Linked DNA regions of Homo sapiens: all the other regions are reported to be linked to region 3. The links are microRNA targets in miRTarBase. Many come from high-throughput screens and were not tested one by one. Region 3 holds a microRNA gene; each other region holds the end of a gene's coding sequence.

What was found. Region 3 holds the annotated microRNA hsa-miR-921 (CUAGUGAGGGACAGAACCAGGAUUC, at 3,915-3,939, opposite strand). A microRNA usually pairs through its seed, bases 2 to 8, with sites in the 3' UTR of a target mRNA and lowers its output. Matches are read on the target gene's strand: a 7mer-m8 pairs with bases 2 to 8, a 7mer-A1 pairs with bases 2 to 7 and ends in A, and an 8mer does both.
Region 1: miRTarBase lists UBE2B as a target of hsa-miR-921. The part of its 3' UTR that is shown has no 7-base or 8-base seed match.
Region 2: miRTarBase lists SLC6A8 as a target of hsa-miR-921. Seed matches in the 3' UTR shown: 8mer at 6,457-6,464.

The regions. Positions count from the first base shown.
Region 1 is chr5:134,389,080-134,396,192 of GRCh38, reverse strand. UBE2B (ubiquitin conjugating enzyme E2 B) reads right to left here. Exons shown (of 6, transcript NM_003337.4): 6 at 4,085-5,968. The coding sequence ends at 5,840. Among named protein-coding and RNA genes, the nearest start is that of CDKN2AIPNL, 19 kb to the left of the region's middle.
Region 2 is chrX:153,694,708-153,701,820 of GRCh38, reverse strand. SLC6A8 (solute carrier family 6 member 8) reads right to left here. Exons shown (of 13, transcript NM_005629.4): 12 at 6,932-7,102; 13 at 5,233-6,747. The coding sequence ends at 6,607. BCAP31 (B cell receptor associated protein 31) reads left to right here. Exons shown (of 8, transcript NM_001256447.2): 8 at 846-1,329. The coding sequence ends at 884. Among named protein-coding and RNA genes, the nearest start is that of SLC6A8, 10 kb to the right of the region's middle.
Region 3 is chr1:166,150,859-166,157,977 of GRCh38, forward strand. It overlaps MIR921 (microRNA 921), which reads right to left and starts at 3,940; the gene lies at 3,885-3,940. All of the region lies in intron 1 of FAM78B (family with sequence similarity 78 member B), which reads right to left.

The DNA.
Region 1 (7,113 bases), not on the chromosome of region 3:
AGACCCAGCCCCAGTCAAAGAATTAATGTAGCAAGACCCCGTCTATACCAAAAAAAGAAAAAAGAACTGTGTAAGCACTAAGATAGGAACTTTTTCCTACAGATTAGTTTATCAAACTTGCCACCTCCAAGTCCTGGTATTGCCTTGGCTGGCTTGCAGAAGGTTCTTTGTCTTTATTCTAAAGGCGACTTTCCAGCTGATGTTTCAGGGAGTTTCCACCTCAAACCACAACCTTATGGCCCATGCAGGAATACTCCTATGACCAAAGATCTCTGCTACACAGCAAGGTTACCAGTTTAGCTTTTCTTTGCAGTGCTACTTCTCACCTGTAGCTGAAACTAGTAACATGGGCTGAAGTCTCTGGATTTCACCCTGATCTCTGCCCAGTATGGTCATTAGGCCAAGCAAAAGCATCTTTTTCTATAGGAAGGGAAAATATCCCTTAGATTTAAAATGAGGTTAACAGCTAAGCAACTTCCCGTTGTTTTCTTTGTACTAACATCAACACAAAAACATAACATTTCCAATTCAATCTTATACAATGACTTTATACAGGGGCCAGCCAAAGAACTTCAAACCTTTCTGTTTGATATTCTCTTTTTCAGGAGTGCTGCTAGTCCAGCACTCCTGTACTCGTGGGTTATGGTATTGGCAAAAGATCTTGTTTGTAAAGGTGGAAAGGAAGAGGGCAATATATCCCTTGGGCTTCAGAAATAAAGCAGCATAACCAACCCTTTGCTTTTTGAGATGGAGTCTTGCTCTGTCACCCAGGCTGGAGTGCAGTGGTGCAATCTCAGCTCACTGCAACCTCCGCCTCCAGGGTTCAAGCGATTCTCCTGCCTCAGCCTCCCGAGTAGCTGGGATTACAGGCGCCCGCCACCACGCCTGGCTAATTTTTTATTTTACTAGGGATGGGGTTTCGCCATGTTGCCCAGGCTGGTCTCCAACTCCTGACCTCTGGTGATCCACCCGCCTCGGCCTCCCAAAGTGCTAGGATTACAGGCATGAGCCACCGCACCCAGCCCCCTTTGCTCTTAAGGGGATCTGCCTCAAGTGCTTTTATGTTTGCATTTTGGCAGTCTTAAAGACACAGTAGAGAACAACTCTTGCATTCCAGAAGAATGACTAAATTGTTCAGGTTGATGGAACCCCAGGGGATCTTTTCAGAGACAGGCTTTGATTCCCTTTACAGGAGTTCCCAGCCCAGTGGCACTTTATGAATCTGTCTTCCAAGTAAGACTTCAGAGGAGCCAACCTCCCCTAAAAGACTACAGAAGGATCATACTTGTAACCAAGACTGTTACTATTATATGAAGACTTTCTCTAATTGGCTTTGCTTTCTCTAGGCAGAGCCCACTCTATTATATATTAGAGTCTTCTCAAATATATTAATCCACAAGTCACTGATGAACAAAAGCAACATGTGGCCAAGCTTTAGCATTTACTTCCCAAAAGATTTCATATGCAAGTTTCTCACACAAGTCTGAATCTTACATATGCCAAAGAGAACTCTGGAGCCCAAGTTCTTCCAAAGTTCTTGATTTCAGCCATCAAGGAACTAATGTTGAGCTGTGGAGCAGTCAGATAACCAACAGGGTTTGTAATGTGCACAGCTCATTCATCTTTTTGGCTCAACTAAAAATTCCTAGGCCATCCTGTGAACACAAGAAGCCCTGAAAGCTCAAGATATTTCTGACAAAATTGTTTTTAAAAAAAGCTGTAGTGATGGTGAGGAGAATTCACTGAAGGAAGAATGGCACACATTTAATTGTGTCTTCTTTGTTGAAACGATAAAGAAAAAGTCCTTTCAACAATAAAATTTAGTTTCTAATATCTTTGCTGTCATATGCTAGAATGACTGATGATAACTAATCTTTCCCCCATCTGGTAACAGTTCATTCCCCCCTAACTAGATGGGAACTAAAGTAATAGAGCTACCATCTTGGCATAAGGCCTCTGTCCTATGGATAATTTCATTTACCGCGAACAGCTTTCCAACTATTCACTTTTCTGTTTAAATACATGATTCTCACATAACTCAGATTCCACTTGGACTCTACATTGTTGAATGCAATGGAAAAGAACTGTCATAAACACCATCAAGACTCCAAAATTTGATCCCTACCTCTTAAAACCTGGGAGAATTGAAATATGAAACACCTTAGACATAACTCTGAAGTGTAATATGATCCTCAGGGTTATCTCTTAAAGAATACTAAATGAATAAACTAAGTAGGCAGTTAACTTTGTTTAATGAGCATTAAACAAACTGTTAATAATACCACACCTTTAATAACTTACTTCTCCGCTATCTTCCACCTACATGAGTGTGAATTTAGAGCTGTGGAGCAGTCAGATAACCAACAAGGTTTGTAATGGGCACAGCTCATTCATCTTTTTGGCTCAACTAAAAATTCCCAGGCCATTCTGTGAACACAAGAAACATGGAAAGTTATTCATATTAATGAAACTTGGTGTGGGGGGTGGGTGGAGGAGAGAAATCCTACAGACTCAAGGATATTTCCAGGAAGGGGAAAAATGTGGCTTATTGATAAGTCAGTCCTTTATATAGAAACCAGAAAATGTTCCTAAAGTCAGTGGAAAATGGTAGTCAAGAAAACCCTTTCAGCTGAGTGCAGTGGCTCATGCCTGTAATCCCAGTGCTTTGGGAGGCCGAGGCAGGATGATCAGTTGAGCTCAGGACTTTGAGACCAGCCTGGCCAACATAGTGAGACATTGTCTCTACAAAAGTAAAAAAATTAGCCAGGCATGGTGGCATGCATCTGTAGTCTCAGCTACTCAGGAGGTTGAGGTGGTAGGACCGCTTAAGCCTGGGAGGTTGAGACTGCAGTGAGCCGCCTGGAGCCACTGGACTCCAGCCTGGGAAACAGAGCAAGACCTTGTCTCGGAAAAAAAAGGAAACCTTTTCATTGGAGTAGACACAAGTCTGTATAAAACTAAATCAGTTAAAAGTATTTCCACAAATTTGGATGTTGAAGTTCTGCAGAATTTCTAAAACCAATCTCAACCTCTTAAAAGATAGCACATTTCTGGGTAAGACCACATAGGGTTCAAATCCCAGTTCTATGACTTACTGGCTGGTTGATCTTGAGCAAGTCACTTCATCTGTCTATCTGTGGCTAGTTTCATTATCATCTTTTTTTTTTTTTTTGAGCCAGAGTCTCACTCTTATTGCCTAGGCTGGAGTGCAGTGGTGAGGTCTCGGCTCACTGCAACCTCTGCCTCCCAGGTTCAAGTGGTTCGCCTGCCTCAGCCTCCCGAGTAGCTGGGATTACAGGCACCTGCCACCACGCCTGGCTAATTTTTGTATTATTAGTAGAGACGGGGGGTTTCACCATGTTGGCCAGGCTGGTCTTGAACTCCTGAACTCAGGTGATCCGCCCACCTCAGCCTGCCAAAGTGCTGGGATTACAGGCATGAGCCACCGTATTTGTGAATTTGAAATGAAATAATATATGTTAAAAGTGCTTAGAATAGTGCCTTTCACAGATTATTCTGTGCTGGGGTATTGTTACAGGGAATTGTATCACACATGCATTTAAACTTTTTAACATGAATCCATCAATATAACTTTGTACCAACATAAACATTTTAGTTCTAGCTTCTTGCCCTACCATACATTTATGAAACTGACCTAGAGTTTAAAGTAAACACTTTTTGTATGACTCAACCTTGTAAATCGAAGGTTTATATCTGGTACTTAACCAAAGAAATAGGAATCTGTTCCAAGGCTGCAGAAAAAAGTGAGGAGTTATGTATAGATTGAACCTTCTTAAGGATTTTCTCGAAAAGGAATGTGGATGCTATGAGTTTTATGCATATGTTGAATTTTGGAGTTAGAACTCACTGACCTCCCTGTAAAGTAACATGTAACTTCTTTATAATTATCTACCAATACTTGAAATTTTCCTGTTTTAAACTGGGAAAGGCAAAAACAGGTCAAGGATAAAAATGGATGTTGAAATAGTAACCAAATAGCATTTAATGAAATAAGAGGGCAGACCCTCATAGCTACTGTATATTTAATCTAGGAGTTACTGGAGTGAATGTCTATAGTTTGTTTTGGAGCTAAACTATAAAAGCACCACACAATTAAAGCATCTTTTTGGGAGCCACGATTCCAGTGAGTGAATTCCCATTTGTATCAAAGTTCCCTAAGATCATACACTTACCTCAGAATTTGCCAAGTAATAGCTTTTATTTTTAAAGACAGGGTATTGCTCTGTCACCCAGGCTGGAGTGCAATGGCATAATCACAGCTCACTGCAGCCTCAACCTCCTAGGCATAAGCTATTCTGCCACCTCAGCCTCCTAAGTAGCTGAGACTACAGGCAAGTGCCACTATGCCCAACTAATTTTTTAAAAAATTTAAAGTAGAGAAAAGTCTTATTATGTTGCCCTGGCTGGTCTCAAAGTCCTGGCCTCAAGTGATCCTCCCGCCTTTGCCTCCCAAAGTGCTGGGACTACAGGTGGGAGCCACCTGGCCCAGCCTATAAGCATTTATCCAATCAATGTTAAACGTTGCATAATGAATAGAAGCTGTAGATATTGCCATACTGTAATCCAATTTTATGGATATGAGAAGAAACTCTTGGGGTTACTAAAATAGCTGTTTTAACTACTAGAGAGACTACACAGGTGGTTCAACAGAATTTACTTGTATATTTTCCATTTTCTATACTATTTGAAGGCATAGGATAGTTTTGTATTAGCTTTCTACAATACTGTGTTTTAAATTTATCCAGTAAACTAAGATGCAGTACAACTTTTATACAACTCAGGAGATTAAAAAAAAAATCTCCACAAGAAGAAGCAACTCAGCAGGCCCTGGCATTAAAACATTTCCCAGAATAAACAGATATGCATTGCATTAAAGGTAATTTTCAAATATTTAAGTTACACCAAGATTTCCCTCCAATATGTGCCTTTCTCAAACCAATGCAACTAATTCATTGCTAATACTGGGGCATGAATTTTTGGCAAATGTTTATGGTTTTACTTTCTTCATTAATCAAAAAATTTTTTAAAGTGCTACCAAGCAGCAAAACAAGTCGCATCAGTTCTCTGCTCATGGCAGAAGTGCCAACTGTGAAATCGCAAAAGGTACAGTTTTAACAGTAAGTAATGCATGAAGAAACTGTAACAAATGGCCTAAATACAGAGTTGGACAGAGTCAAACCAGTTATGTCTAGAATTACTCAATTGAAACTAATAGAGGTACATTCAAAATAAAGTTGGAGATTATAATCGCTATTTAGAATCAAATTTGAAGACTTCCTTGATAAAATATAAGAATGTTCTTTTGAAATTGTAAATGAAACTATCAATAGATGGAGAGCTAGAGACTTATTAACCCCTCCTACACACATAAGGAAATAAGTGACAAAGTCTCTTGCACTGAAGTTATGTATTTTAACAGCTTTACATGTAATATTCATATATAAAAAACTTTAAGTGCTTTTCTCCAATTTAAAAATCTAAAGAATTCAAAAATAAGGCATTCAATATTTGAAAAAAGTACAGATTTACAAAATGTGTATATTCTGTCATGAAAACTCCACACCAACATTATACACTTGGAAAAAAATACAAACAGGATATATTACAAATTTATGCAGCAATAACTTAGTTCACACCATGCAATAAAAAGTACATTAATCAAGATACACAAGCTTTTGTAGGTTCTAAACTGAAGGACTTTTTTCTTTTTTTTCTGCAGAATCCTTAAAACCTGTGGCACTTAAAATTTGTTAGCCTTTCTAATGAGAGGTAAATTATACACAACAATGATGAAAAAGATTAACAGACCAGTTGTCTATTATGAATCATTCCAGCTTTGTTCAACAATGGCCGAAACTCTTTTCTCATATTCTCGTTTGTTTTCCTGATAAAGCTGTGCTGCCTGGCTATTGGCTGGACTGTTAGGATTCGGTTCATCCAGCAGAGACTAGGAGGAAAGAAAAGAAAAAACAGATTTGCATAGTTGTTCTTTATACCAACAGGGGTCAGATATGGAATATATTACAGAAAAGTTATACAAAACAACAAATTACTTCAGAGATTAACATGTCATATAATTTTGGGTCTAAATACTTTTAGAAATGATTTGATAAATACTATGGGGTTTCCTGCTGCTAAGGAACTTAAGCTTCTGAAATAAAGTTCTCAATTGCCTTAAGACCTATAATTTCAGCTGGGTACAGTGGCTTGTGCCTGTAATCCTAACACTTTGGGAGGCCAAGGCAGGAGGATCCCTTGAGCCCAGCAGTTCAAGCCCAGCCTGGGCAACATAGGGAGACCCTGTTTCTATTAAAAAAGAAAAAGAGGTCGGGTGTGGTGGCTCACGCCTGTAATCCCAGCACTGTGGGAGGCCGAGGCGGGCAGATCACCTGAGGTAGGGAGTTCGAGACCAGCCTGACCAACATGGAGAAAACCCCGTAATTTCTAAAAATACAAAATTAGCCGGGTGTGGTGGCGCATGCCCGTAATCCGCTACTCGGAAGGCTGAGGCAGGAGAATTGCTTGAACCCGGGAGGCAGAGGTTGCAGTGAGCTGAGATCGCGCCACTGTACTCCAGCCTGGGCAACAAGGGTGAAATTCCGTCTCAAAAAAAAAAAAAAGAAAAAAGAAAAGAAAAAAATACCTATAATTTGAAAGAAATCAGAAAAGAATATTCTTAAGCATATTGAGACGTTCTCATTAAACCAAGGAAATAAACAGCTTAATTTGGTTAAGATATCAATAATTCTCAGTAACCAACATTTTCCAAGGTTAAACTCTATTACTGCAGTTACTTTGCAAATGTCTTGACAGTAAATTTGGGAGATAAGTCTTATTTCCTTTAATCAACAAAACATATACATTTAGCAGGAAGAGAATGAGATAGGAAGGTTGAAAAACAACGCTTGTAAGATGACCAGAACTGGCCTGGTGCAGTAGCTCACGCCTGTAATCCCAACACTTTCGGAGGCTCAGACGGGCGGATCATGAGGTCAGATGGAGACCATCCTGGCTAACACTGTGAAACCCCATCTCTACTAAAAATACAAAAACTTAGCCAGGCGTGGTAGCATGTGCCTATAGTCCTAGCTA
Region 2 (7,113 bases), not on the chromosome of region 3:
ATGTAGGCACTTGCCAAGGCGGCCCTCAGGAGTGGCACTGGCTCACTAGGCTCTGAGCCTTCCTACCTTCGTGCTCAGGCGCAGCCATGGTTTGGGGCCTGGTCAAGAACAAAGAAGCAGGTGAAACTCTGGGACCCACTGCTGGCCTTCTTTCCTAGGGTGCTGGGGAGTGACGTAGGGCAAAGATCCCTGGGCAAGTGAGGGCACAAGGTGTCAAAAAGGCACCTTCCCTAGCAGGCGCTAGTTGTGGCCATCACCTGCTGCCCTAGGCCTGATCTGAGTCCTCAGACTAGCTTGGGTGCACCAGGCCGCATCTGGAAGCCCAGGCGGTCTTGACGTTGGGAGTGAGGGCCACATAAATACTCCTAACTTTGGACAGCTGGCCTCAGTGCTTGGTGGCCCAAGTTTGGGCACCACAGCAGGTGGGGAGGAAGGGTCCAGCCTCAAAGGGGGCACCCATGCCCTCTGTATGGGGCAGGCTTGGCAGATGGGCTTCGAGGGCACCTGTCAAAGGTGTGCAGAGTTGGGAAGGGTCTGATCAGGTCTTGAAGGGGACTGGATGCCTTGCTGTTCCCTGCAGCCAGGACTCAGCCCCCAGTGAGGTCCTGGCAGTCCTCCCTGGCTGGCGTTAGGTCCAGGGCTTTCCCTAGAGCGTGGGCCAGGGCTGACGCTCCCACCCTGGCAGGCCTTTGGGTGCAGCTGGGGAGGGGGCCCCTTGTTCACTTGAATAGCTGTTGTTAGGAGAGAGGGGAACCGAGGTGGACCTCTGGGGCATGGGGCTGGAGGTGGCAGGGGAGGAGTGGACCCGGCCAACCTACTGCTGTGGGATTTCTGTCCCTTTCCAGGCTGCAGTAGATGGTCCCATGGACAAGAAGGAAGAGTAAGGGCCTCCTTCCTCCCCTGCCTGCAGCTGGCTTCCACCTGGCACGTGCCTGCTGCTTCCTGAGAGCCCGGCCTCTCCCTCCAGTACTTCTGTTTGTGCCCTTCTGCTTCCCCCATTCCCTTCCACAGCTCATAGCTCGTCATCTCGGCCCTTGTCCACACTCTCCAAGCACATTACAGGGGACCTGATTGCTACACGTTCAGAATGCGTTTGCTGTCATCCTGCTTGGCCTGGCCAGGCCTGGCACAGCCTTGGCTTCCACGCCTGAGCGTGGAGAGCACGAGTTAGTTGTAGTCCGGCTTGCGGTGGGGCTGACTTCCTGTTGGTTTGAGCCCCTTTTTGTTTTGCCCTCTGGGTGTTTTCTTTGGTCCCGCAGGAGGGTGGGTGGAGCAGGTGGACTGGAGTTTCTCTTGAGGGCAATAAAAGTTGTCATGGTGTGTACGTGGTGCGGTGTGTGACTGCAGCTGTGGGGAGGGCTCTGCTTTCTCTCCTGCCTGGAGCCCCCAAGCGGCCACAGCCCTTCAACCTGTTTCCCCCACTGAAGGCCAGGCTCACACCTGTTCTCGAAGGCCTTGCCCTCTCTGTCCTCCTGCTCCCCGGGCTGGGCCAGGCCTCGCTTCAGGGCCACCCGCCGAGTGTGTGTCCTGTCTGCCTCCCTGGGTGTGGGCAGCTTGGGAGGCTCAGTAAACCGGCGGGGCTTCCGGGTAGAGGACTCGCTTGCCTTCTCTGGGTTCCTGTTCGTCACATTTGGGACAGACAGAACGTGGCAGAACGCCACTAGTCACTCCCTGCCCCCCCCCCCGAAGGTTTGCAGGATGACCTCTGACTAATGCCAGCTGGGAGAGGAGACTTGTCCTTGGCAGTGACCTGGAGCTGGCCCAGGGCAGAGCTAGGCAGAAAGGGGCTGGGAATGGGCTGGGGCCCTTGGCCCTGAGAACGTGCTGGGTGTGTGCCTGCCACCAGAGCGCTGTGCTGGCTCCAGGGTGTCCCTCCCGTGGCTCCCTCAGAGCTGTGTCTTCCAGGCCCACAGCAAGCCAGGCCAGTACCGGGGCTTCCTGCCTGGCACCAGTGCCCAGGCCCCTGCACTGTGCTACTCTCCAGTAGCACATGAGGAAGGCAGCCCCCGCCCGCAGCACAGTGCTTCCACCCTGCAGGGCCTCTGCCATGCCTGGTGTCTGCATGAGGACTGGGCGGAAGGGTCAGGGGAGCAGGTTAGAGGTGTGTCTCCTGGAACTGGGGGGACCCCTGAAGGATGTTGATGCTGGCAGGGTAGCTGACGGCCTGCTGTGCATGCTCGCTTCTGCCTGCCCTGTCCGGGCCCAGGCCAGTGGTTCCCTTCTCTAGCATCCTGTCGCCCTTCCCTTGTGCTCAGAGCACAGCCGCCTCATGACGAGTTCTGTCCCTTTCCAGGCGGTCTGAGAGGTGGTGTCTGAGGGAGTAGGGGACACGTGGGCGATACCCTCTGGTTGCTGTGCCAAGGCCGAAGGCTGATCCCACTTTTCCAGGAAGTGCTCTCAGCTACCTTGGACCTCCCTGAGCTCACCCTTCTCTGAGCTTTGAAAGGCTAAAGTCCAAACGGGTGCTTCCCTCACCAGCCCTGATGGCTTCTTCCGCTGTTCTGCCTAGGCCAGCAGCAGACAGAAAGCTGCACGAGGCCAGCTTCTGGAGCGCCCTTTCTAGTGGAGTGATGGAACAACAACGGGGCAGGGGGTGTGGGCACAGGCTCTTAGAGATGAAAATTGAGGTGCTTGCCCAGCCTAGACTGGAGGGCGGCCTGCAGGCTCGCGCCTTCCTGGATCAGCTTCTGTTCCAGGGCATCTGCACCCGTGGGCGTCCTGATCTGTTTTCTTACCCATCTTCCACTAGACTGCGAGCTGCTTGAGGGCAAAGCCTGCTGCTTGTTGATCTCTGTGTCCTAACCCCTGATGCAGGAGCTAAGTCCTGAGGAAATGGTGTCTCTATTTCAGGACCCTCTTTAAGTGACAGGCCTCTGTGAAGTTTCCTTTTTTCAATGTCTTTTTTCTGTGTGTTTAGTGTCATCGTGGTGCATGAGGTGGCTTGGAGGGCATTTGGCCTGGAGGTGCGGAGAACAATTAGCAGAGGGTGATTGTCATCCAGGCAGAGACTTGGCTGACAGTGTATAAAGCAGTTGGCCTGAGCTCAGGGGTCCTGAGGGTGACTGTGGGCTGCAGGACAGTTGGAGTCGGTTGGGGACAGGGGCTGTGTGAGGGCCTGGGGCACCCTGGGGAGAGGTCTTGCTGATGTTGGGAAGCACCTTTGCAGCTAAGGAGGGCCAGGCCGGAGATGTGGGAGCTGCCAGCAGGCGGGGTTCTTGAAGGCGCAGGCATGGTGAGAGGACAGGCTTCTCAGGGAGAAAAAGAAAACTGGAAACAGCGGTTGCTGAAGAGATGGGGGCCAGGGACTGCAGGACAGGCTCCAGAGCCCCTGGCTGAGCTAGGGTGGGACTGCACTGCCACTCCTTTCTCTGCTCCCTGTCTGGTCCGTGTATTTCTCACCCAGGCTCTTGGTTGGCCGTATTCCAAGCCAGGTCCCTCCCCTGGCTCCAGAAGTTTAGGGGTAAAGCCCCTCCATAGGGGGTGCTGCCTGCTGAGGAGCAGGGCCTCTGGGGGTTCTCCCATAGCACGATAGCAGTCCTGGGCAGGACGCAAAGGGAGCAGCCCAAGCTGTCACTTTGCTCTGAGGGGTCACCTGCTCCCCCTTCACAGGCTCCAATCTCTGATGCTCTCTGTGCTTGCCTGAGCCGCCCACTGCATTGCCTGCTGTGCCCTGCCATGGTGCCCAGCCCTTTGAGGGTGGGGTGCCACATGCTCATCTTGTGCACGGGGTCCCGCCCGTTGAAGGACCTGTCTGTACTCAGTGTCTCCAATTCCTCTCCACCTCTTCTCATGGTAAAACGCATATATATCATACATATATATAGTGTCATCAGTGTATATGTAATGAGCCATTTTCACCATCGTTAAATGTGCAATTCAGTGGCATTAAGTGCAGTCACAGTGTTGCGCAGCCACCACTTCCATCCACCTCTAGAATTTATTTTCTCAAACTGACACTCTGTCCCCACTCAACACTCCCCACCCTGTCCCCAGCCCCTGGCACCCACCCTTGCCCTCTGTCTCTGTGGATCTCCCTCCTCTCATGTAAGGCCCTGTCTCTCTCACAGGAGCAGAACCCTATAGCAAGTATCCCTTTATGATGGCTCATTTCACAGAAATGCCCTCCAGGGTCAGCCATGTTGTGTCGTGTGTTGGAATGCCTTCCCTTTCCAGGCTGGCTCATATTTCCTTGTCTGGGTGAACTACGTTGTTGTCTCTCCCTTCGTCTGCAGATGACACTGCGCTGCCGCCACTCCTTTTCTCAGTCGCACACCACCCAGCCTTTCACACGCACCCGCTCATGCAAGCCACCCTCGCCAGGCCCCCGTGACCCTTGCCAGACTCAGTGAGCATTTGCAGGTCACTGTCCTTCACCAGCAGCAGCACTGGACAGATGGAGCCAGCCACTGCTCCTCCCTGACCTGTGAGGGGTCCTCACTGGCTCAGGTTGCAGGACCCCACCAGGAACTCTCAGGCGTCCTCCCCTATCACTGCCACGTCTTCGCTCTGCCCCTCTCATTGTGTTCCGGGGCTTGCGGCGTCCCTGTGAGCTCACTCAGGCTCAGGGCTTTCAGTGTCATCTCTATGTGGTAAGAACTTGCACAGTTCCATCTCCAGTACTTTCTGGAACTCCTGTGTCCACCTGCCAACTAGACATCTCCACTTGGATGACACTTCCTGCATGACACACCCAAGGCTGACTCCAGACCATTCTCTCCTTGCCTCCCCATTGCAGGACCTGGCAGCTCCATCTTTCCTCTTGCTCAGGCCAAATCTGTTGTCCTTAACTCCTCTTTGAGCCCTGCATCCTGGTCATGCACAACCCCTATTGGCTCCACCTTCAAAATTGATCCCTGATGCAGAGTTATCCCCTCTGCTGCTACCAGCCTGGCCCAAGTGACACAAGGCACCTGTTCAGTGACAAATTCTTGGGGTAACATTTTGAAAATTTCAGCACCCATGGCTTTACGCCCACCCTTCCCCGCGGGTGTGGCTGCTCTCCAGCTCACTCTCGTCCTGCTCTCCCCAACTGCCTCGGCTCCAGGGGGACAAGGCCTTCCCCTGGGCTGCTGCCTTCCCTGCCCCCTTCCCAGTCCCCAGAAGGGTGCCGGCCGCAGAGGCCTCCAGAGCAGAGCCTTGCTCACGGCAGCAGCTCCAGCTGGAGGAGGTTCCCCCTGCCTCCTGTACCCCGACCCCTTCCTTAGAGCAGCAGAGGCGGAAGCAGGAGCCTGCTTTGGAAAATGACATGTTTTTATTGCTATGTCTGCAGTGGCTTTTTAGCACAGTAGAATGTCCCCGCAGGCCCGCCACCCTCACCCAGCCCCAGCCCTGCAGCCTCTGTCTGGGTGTCGGGGAAGCCTTTCTTGGGGTCACTCAGCCGTCTCGGGACTGGACGTGACAGACAAACGTGGGTTAAAGCTGCTACACAGAAGACTGGAGGTGCGGGAAGTGCATCCACCTTAAGCCTGGACGTGGGAGCCGTGTCCAGGGTCCCTTCCTGGGGGTGTGCCCCGCACAGGGTGGGAAGCCTGAGCAGGCCAGGTTAGCAGCCCAGACACCCAGGACGGAATATTGCAGCCTCTTGCCCCACAGACTTGTGGCAAAGGGACAGCGTGGGGACAGCCCCGAGGCCCCCACCATGCACTTTTCCAATCCAGTCTGGGGCTGGGGACCACACACGCACATCCACACAACAGACTCACACACGCAACAGCTCGAAGCTTTTGTTTTGCCTATGAAAGTTAGATCTATAAATTCACACTCCTTGGCTAGGGGCAGAGGGGTAAGGTAGGGCTCACAGGGATGGGAGTGGTAAGGAGAGGATGGTTTGGGCTCCTTCCTCTTTTTAGAAATATACAAGCAGAAATCTCATTCTCTCAAGTTTTTATAAAATGTGCAAAATACAAGCCTCCTTTGCCCAGAGGCGCCATTTACATCTGGCATTCACCTTTGCTAAGAGATAGAGATCTATATATACTCTCCGTACTCACGCACGCGTGCACTCGCACCCAAGCTCACACAATTGATACTGGTGGCGATTGGCGCAGGAACCAGAAGGTTCCATTGCTGGCTGGCTCTCTAAGCTTCTATAACAGGGATGGGGAGAGGGGTATAGCCCAGCTGAAATATTTGCCTTGGTTCTGCTGCCCCTCCCCTGCCTCCCTTCTCCTCTCTCTCCTCCCTCCCGTCTCTCCCTCCTTCCCTTCCTCACATTTCCCAAGCTGCCACTGCTGCTTCTGGGGTGAGGGGTCACCCACGGGTGTGCTGCAGAGCAGAGCCTGGAGAGGTGGGCAGGGGGTGGGCGTGGCAGGGGCAGGAGGAGTGCAGCACTGTGGGTGGGGGTGGGGCACTAGGCGGGGCCTAGGACCAGCTCGGCTAGGGCTGGAGGGGGAGAGGCATCTATTTTTGGTGGGTTGTGATATTTTTGGCGTTTTATTAAAAATGGAAAAAGTTGTTTTAGTGAGCACTCATGGTGCTTTCTCCCCTCCTCCCCCAGGCAGACCCCAAAAGTGTCAGGGAAAGGCAGGCCCCCTGGAGGGGTGCGGTGGGGCTGAAGCAGGGGCTGCTATGGCTACCAGAGGTGAGCTGGTGATGTGAGCTGAGTTGTCACATGACACTCTCCACCACGACGACCTTGCTGCTCTCGGACACTGGGGTCAGGGTGGTCAGGCCCCTGACATCTGCGTCCTGAGCTCGGTACTCCAAGTGGTGGAGGCCCCAGATGGGCTGGGTCAGGTGCTGCCAGCGCTGCAGGAGAGGAGGACATGCTGAAGCCCCCAGGGTCACCTGCTCGTCCCCACGGTGACTTCCTCTGCCTCTCTCCGGTTCCCACTGCCTGCCACCCTAGTCGGGGCCACTCCCTGGCTAGGAAGCAGGCTGGGTTGAATGTTCACAGCAGGGGAGGGGAGGGCGGGCCGGGCGGGAGCCTTACCTCAGCCATGGTGCCCTTGGCCCTGAGGAGGCAGCCCAGGAGGTGCAGCGGCACGCACAGCATGGAGGACAGGGCGAAGGCCCAGCCCATGGCCTCACCCCACCACGGGTACACGTAGGTGTTGTTGTAGACCAGCGGCTCGTAGTACACAACGTTGAAGATGAAGATGCCCTACGGACCAG
Region 3 (7,119 bases):
AGGATTACCTGAGCCCAGGAGTTTGAGACTAGCCTGAGCAACACAGTGAGAACTTGTCTCTACCTATATTTAAAAAATAAAAAAAATTAAAATATATAATAGAGGTAAATCAGAAATGTTTAGAAGTTGGATGGTATGACCCAGAACTGGGGTTTTAATCTGGTATAGAAGTTGATTTTTGCCAAGGAGCTTGCAGAGAGATTCACCTCAGTTCTGTGCTGGGTTATAGAGGATGGCATCAGAGAAGAATTTGAACACTTGAGACTGGAAACAAATGCACGTAGACTTGTAATAGCTCAAGAGTTCAATGCTACCCTGTAAATTGGCCTGTGCTTTTGAAATGTCTCAATGAAGACAATCTGACTGTCTCGTCCACTTCTTTCTCTCTGGTTACTCTGCTTCAGTTTAACCAGGGGCATTTCTGATAGAACATTTCTTCAATGTTTTTGCTTTTTGAGGATGGCATGAAAACATTCCAAGATTTTCCTTTTAGTGGAAAGTCGTTAAGTACTAGGGTATAATTCTAGATTCTAATTCTGATGACCAGACGTTTCAGGAAGCACCAGATGTTGAAGGTAAATCTTGAAAAAACCCTCCCAGCATCCAAGGAAGACTCTCCCTCTTAGAATAAAGCCCTAAACATTCCTGGGTTCTGATCCAGAAGCATCCTGCTTTTCTTGGCTCAGCAGTGAGTTTGTCCAATTGTTGGCCTAGGATCCCTCAATCTGAAGTCATTGATACAGCCACAGAAACCATGGCCAGATGTAAGTGGACAAGAAACCATCTTAGCTTCCAGGTGTTCACAAATACTCCTCAGTAGGAGCTGTACCCAAATGTCTCTGCTTCAAGTGCCAGACCCACTCAACTGTTCAACCATTCGGCTAAAGAGAATTAGCTGCTTCATGAAAAAGTAACTATGTACAGATCCCAAGGTTCAAGTTCAACAGATAGGGTTTCCGCAAAAACTTTATCATGTAGACAAATGCTACCTCTCCCCTACTGTTCAACTTTGACGGCCCAGTAGAAGGAATGAGCCCATTAGCACTAAATCCATACCAGTACTTAACTTTACCCCGGGCCCAACTCTCAGCCTAATTATACAACAGTCCCATCTCTGAAAGACTTTTCAATTGTGATTACGCAACCCCACAGGTACCCAGATTATCTAGAGTCTCTGTCAGATACAGGTTCTGAAAAGACAAATTTTCTCAAAGACATTTTAGAATCCCAGCAGCCCAGGCACTGGCCAGAGAGGAGGATGTCCACCGAGGCTATAAAGGGCCCTTCAGTGTTCCTAGCTCCTCCCCTCTCTGGAATCTTCTAGCTAAAGCCATCTGCTCAGCCATCCAGCTGGAGATGTTACCCCAGGGAGCTTTGCAGCAGAGAAGCCCGTGGTGGTTGTTGTTCTCAGGTGTCAGGGATAGGGATGGGAGCAGCTGCTAACCTTGCCCGGGCCTTTCAGTTCCACGCTGGCGGGATGCGGCAGGACCAAAGGTCAAGAATTTGTCTGGTCTTGTCGTGAGAAACTAGGCCCACCATAGCTTCCCTTGGCCCTGTCTGCACCCCATTAATTGTTCTCTTTTCCGTATTTTAGGATCTACTCTTGATATCCAGGCCTTTAAGATGCTTGCCCAGAGGACAACCATGTGCTTAAGCTTCTTTCATACTCCCTCTCTGCTGCAGACTTGCTGTGGATGAACTGGCCCCGGACACTTGTTGAATCAATCCCCCTTTAACCTGTGCCCTCTCCCTGGATTCCAAACCCCACATGCTCAGGGGAAGTTCTTGGTACTCTGGATTTATTTATTTATTTATTTATTTATTTATTTATTTATTTATTGATGGAATCTCGCTCTGTCACCAGGCTGGAGTGCAGTGGCGTGATCTCTGCTCACTGCAACCTCCACCTCCTGGGTTCAAGAGATTCTCCTGCCTCAGCCTCCCAAGTAGCTGGAACTACAGGTGCACGCCACCACACCCAGCTAATTTTTGTATTTTTAGTACAGACGAGGTTTCACCATGTTGGCCAGGATGGTCTCGATTTCTTGACCTCATGATCTGCCTGCCTTGGCCTCCCAAAGTGCTGGGATTACAGGCGTGAGTGCGCCCAGCTGGTACTCTGGTTTTAACTGTTCCCAGCTTCCTCACCAGACATCCAGAACTCTAGCTGAGTTGCCCCTTTAGATCACAAGTAATTTTCTTTATAAAGATCATCCATGGTTTTTGGAAACCCACTCATGAGATGAAAGTAGACGCCCAGCCAGGCTTGGAGGCAACGTGGAAGACAGAGTGACTCATGGGCTCCCAAGAGAAGGGTGAATGGTTCTGCTCCAAGGGTGGAGAACAGCTTTGCTCTTCCAGCTGTGGCTCCTTCCATATTTATCTCTCCAGAGAGAGAGGGGGAGCACAAGTCAGGGAGTCAATGAGAAGTGGGGGGATCCAGGGGTCTGGGGAAGGGCATCTGGCTAAAGCCCTGCAGCTTGAAAGAGTGACTATCCCAAGACAAGCAGAGGGTCAGAAACCAAGCCGGTAGAACTTGGGATGGACACAAAGATGAACAAGTAGTTCAAAGGCAGGCAGGAACCTGGCAACAAATACTGAGAATCAGGCAGCAGGGCCAATCGATCAGACAGGCAGGAGCCCTGTGAGTTATAGGACTTGGAACAGGACATGCCAGGCAGGCAGGACAACAGTGAAGGGTCCACATAGCCCAAGAAACATGAGGATGCCTCCTCCTCTACGCAGGTCTCCAGGGAGGGTAGAAGCCTGGTCCCAGTGCAAGCTTAGAGAAGGAGGGCCAGGCTGCAACAGGACTATGTAAGGGGGAGGTGGACCACATGACATCGCCCTGGATTCCCAGAGTCCTCATGACAGGAAGTGTGGAGTGGTACAGAAACTACAGCTTTAGAGTAAGCCAGGCAGGCAGTGATGGCAGGATGCTCGGAGGTATATACTCGTCTCCCTCTGCAGTCCTCCCTCTATACCCCCCTTAGATCCCAACAAGGGCAAAGCAAAATGGGGTGTTGCCTAGACCTGTTCCCTCCCATTCTTCCCCAACCCCACCTCCTTTAGGGTGAGCAGACACAGCACCATTTGATCATGCCCCTATGCTGAAATGCCTCAATAAAACAAAACAATGACAAAAGAATTGACTGAAACCAACTAAAAGCCACAACAGAGACAGGGTCTCCAGGCTGCTAGGATATCCCTCTCAGACTTCTCCCATCTGTTCTGCTCCACAGAGGCCTCCCAGCTGAGCCCTGCTGTCAGGGGAGGGCCCCTGGCCCCCTCACAATCTGTCATCTTTGACGCTACTTGGATCTTATTTCTTCTAGAGCTGCCAGGGGCTAGGAAGATACCTTGCCTGTGTGTGGGTAGGGGCCAGGAGGGCCATGCATGCCATCAGCACCAGGGCTAGGGTAAGGGGGGTATTGAGGGGTGGAAGAAAGGGATTCTGGGTTGTTGGGAATCCCGGCTAAATCTCAATTTCTCCATACTTTCCCCTTCCCTTGGGCTGCCAAGCCCTCCCATCTCCTGCCATCTGTGACAGGTGTCTCTGGGGAGACCCTCTTCTTTCTTGCTTGCTAATCACTGCATATAGACACTGAAAACAGGCTGGACTCTCTGCTCCTGGCAACTGTGTAGACATCCCTTGGGCTGATGTGAGTTCCTCTCTGTGCTGCCAAGGGATGGATTCTTCCTGCACCCTGTGCACTTTCCTTTCCTGGGCAGGTGGCCATCTCTGCCTGAAGACCTGGACCCTCAGCAAACCTGGCTGGGGGGCAGGGGCAGGCAGTGATGAAAAAACAGGGGGAGGTGACCACTGACTGCTGCTTTGAAGACTAGGTGTGCTGGGTGCCTCCAGCCCTGACCCACAGAATTAGCCAGTGATCCAGGCCCATGGACCTGAGTCTGAATCCTGGTTCTGTCCCTCACTAGTTGTGGCACTGCCCTTTTCTGGGCTTCAGCGTCCCCATCTGTAAAAGAAGCAAATGAGCTAGATGATTTCCCGCACCATCCTAACACCCTGTAAGTTAAAAATGATTCTGTTGATCTACCACTTGCATTCTTCTGGCCATTTCTCTACTCTTTAATCAAGACCCTGCTGTGACTGGTAGCTGGTAACAGTCACCTGTGAGGTAGCTGAAAGGACAGAGGACTGCCTCTGGTGCTGGGATGGTCCCCTGGGTCTGATCCCAAGACCCTGGTTTCATTACTATCACATCCTGAGCAGCTGAGTGAACCAGGCAGCTGGGAGGCAAGGAGACTAGTCATTTCCAATTTGATTTAAACCTTTTGTTTCCCAAGTCTCCTCAGCAAGGACGAAAGCAAACACTCAAGCAATATCCTGAATACTTCCTGATCATTCATTCATTTGGACATTCATTCATTCAACCCTTATGAGGCAGTACAACATCATAAGGAGTCACAGGAATTAGTTTGACCTGCTTTCTAAATCTGGCTCTGGCACTACTTAGCTGAGTAATGCTGGGCATGTTATCCGACCGCTGTAGGCCTCCGTTTCATCTCTAATATGAGGAAAATAATGGTGCTACCTACTTTACAGACAGTGCATCTAAAGCATCTGGCACACACTAGTTGTTATCATCATCAAGTTGAGTAAGTTGCTCATGGTTTCACGGGGAGACAGACGAGCACATAGCTGCCCATCACTCAGTGTGTGCAGGTTTCTTAGCAAAAGACAGGCTCCTTGGTTCTGAACGTCAAGAAAATAACTTCAACAGGAGGTTGGGGGTTAGTTTGTGGCACAAATCACTCATCCTTCCTAAAGAAAGTGAAGATGGTTCGTGGAAGCTTGAAACAGATTCTCAAATCATTAAGTGATAACAAAAAATCTATTCTTGAATTGATTTGCCCAGCTCAGGTGTGGGGACTGCCATTTTGGAATGGAGGCTCAGCGTGTGTGGTCTCGGGAGAGGGAATAGAAGGTAAGTAAGATCCTGCTCTCACAGAACGGGCATGTCTGATTCCCTTCACGCCTCTCTTCCCCTACATATCCCAGCCTGAGCCCCCATGCAGAGGGCAAAGCAACATCTAATTTGCCTGTTTCTGGCAGCTCTTGGACTTGCCAAAGCCTGTACCTGCCGCCACACATGCCCCAGAAGCCTCTGCCTGCTCCTTCGGGATGCTGCAGAAAGTGCTGACTGCGGATGCCGATTTACCGCTTCCCATTAGCCAGGCCTCTAACAGCCTCTGAGAGCCTGTGCCGGACACAGGCCCACCAGCCAGCTCTGAAAGGTCAGGCCCCAGGAGCAGGAGCCAGCCAGAGGCTTTGCGAGGCAGGCCTCGCACAGTGACCCTGTTGATGTGCCATCCTTTATTTTGTTTTAATAACAAAATGGCCTTATTTATCTTGTTTTAATCTGACAGCCTGAAAATTTCTCTTTGCGCTTGTTGAAGACATTTAGGTGGTCCTGTTTACCCTCTCTTGTCTTCAGACATCATAAATGATGCCCTTAAAAGTGTCCACATGCTGTCTGAGCCAGAGGTGCCCAATGCACATGGCTCTGAGGATGACCTCTCCCATCCCTGACTCCCATTCTTGGTTGGCTGATCATGGACTCAGTATGGAGGGCACTGGGAGAGGAGGTGGGATGCCTGAGCATCAGGCCTGAGTCTACCAGTGCTTGCCAGGATGACCTTGGGCACATAATTTAATCTCCTTAGGCCTCAGCTTGCTTATCTGAAATAGGAATAACTGTTGTCCTACATGTTTCATGATTATTGTGAGGTTAATTATGAGAGGTCCCCTTATAAAGAAAACAAAAATCATGAAAGGGACCTGCAAAGAATAAAGTACCTTAAAAATAGCTTTGGACACAAATGATTTCAGGTGTTGGTCTCACTGTCCCCCTAAGGTGGAAATTGCACAACCTTCCTGAGCATGAACAGCATGGCTCACATGCTCCAGCATCACCCCACCCTCAAGTCCTTGGCTTGGACAAACTGTAGCTCCTTCCCCCAGCCTGAGTGATACTGTTACCAAAGAAGGGCTCAGGGATAGGACAGGAAGTCCCCATAAGGATGTGGCTAGGCTGCAGGCATCATGCCTAGGGATTAGGAGCAGCCAGGGTCCTGGAGGCTTCCCAAAGTCTACAGCTTAGAGGAGAACAAGGAGGGTGACTTCTGAGTGACATGACGTCAAGGGGGCGGCGGAGGGGGGGGGGGGGCTCCAATGCCTTCCTCTGAGTTTGAACAGAAAACAGCCCTGGCTCCAGATGTACAGAGCAAGCCTTTCTCCTCCCCTCTATCTTTGAGTGGGTTTGTAGGGGAGGTTTGTATAGCTGACATGCCAGAGACCCCTCTCCAGAGTCTGAATGCTTCTCTGTCCAGGGAAGTTGCAGGGCCACAGCCACAACCTCCCTGTTCCTTAAGGCTGATCCACAGTCATCCTCTAGCAATAATAACGAGCATGCTCTGTAATAACAAAAATCACAAGTGTTGATTCCTAATCCGTATGGCATTAGGATGGGGAGATCTTATTACTGTCCATTTATGTACAGGCAAACTAGATGCTGGCTTATTAAGGGACCTGCCAAAGGTCATGCAGCTGGCACTGGGACCCAGATCTTCTGACTGGAACCCTGCGCTGGGGAACCAGCAGCTAAATCTTCCACTGGCACAGTGAACAGTTCCAACTGGCATGTACCCCAGAACCTAATGAGGGAGCAGGGTCCACATGGGCCTCGAGAAAAGGAACAGTGCAGGAATTCTTGGGAGCCAGAGGTATGTCCAATGAGCTGATGACAAAGCCAGGGGTCCCTTCCACCACCAGATGGGAATCCTTGTTCTCCTTCTCTTCCTAATCATCCACCCGAACAGCAACTGCCCGGAGAGTTTGAGGGATGAATAGCTATCCATATCCAGTACCTGGGTAGTCTGGGTGACTGTCTGCTGGGGCCCAGGGCTGCCCATTAGGGCCTGAAGGTGTAGGCACACGGCTAAAAGCTACAGCCCAGACCAACCAGCTTGCAGCCCGAGAACTGAGGATGTCGTCCCCCTGCTCCCAAGGAATGTGCTCCTCAGCATGAAAGGAGCTTATTCCCTGCTGTCTTTACTCCTGGCCCCTCACAAAGATATGGCTCTTACAGCTAACCA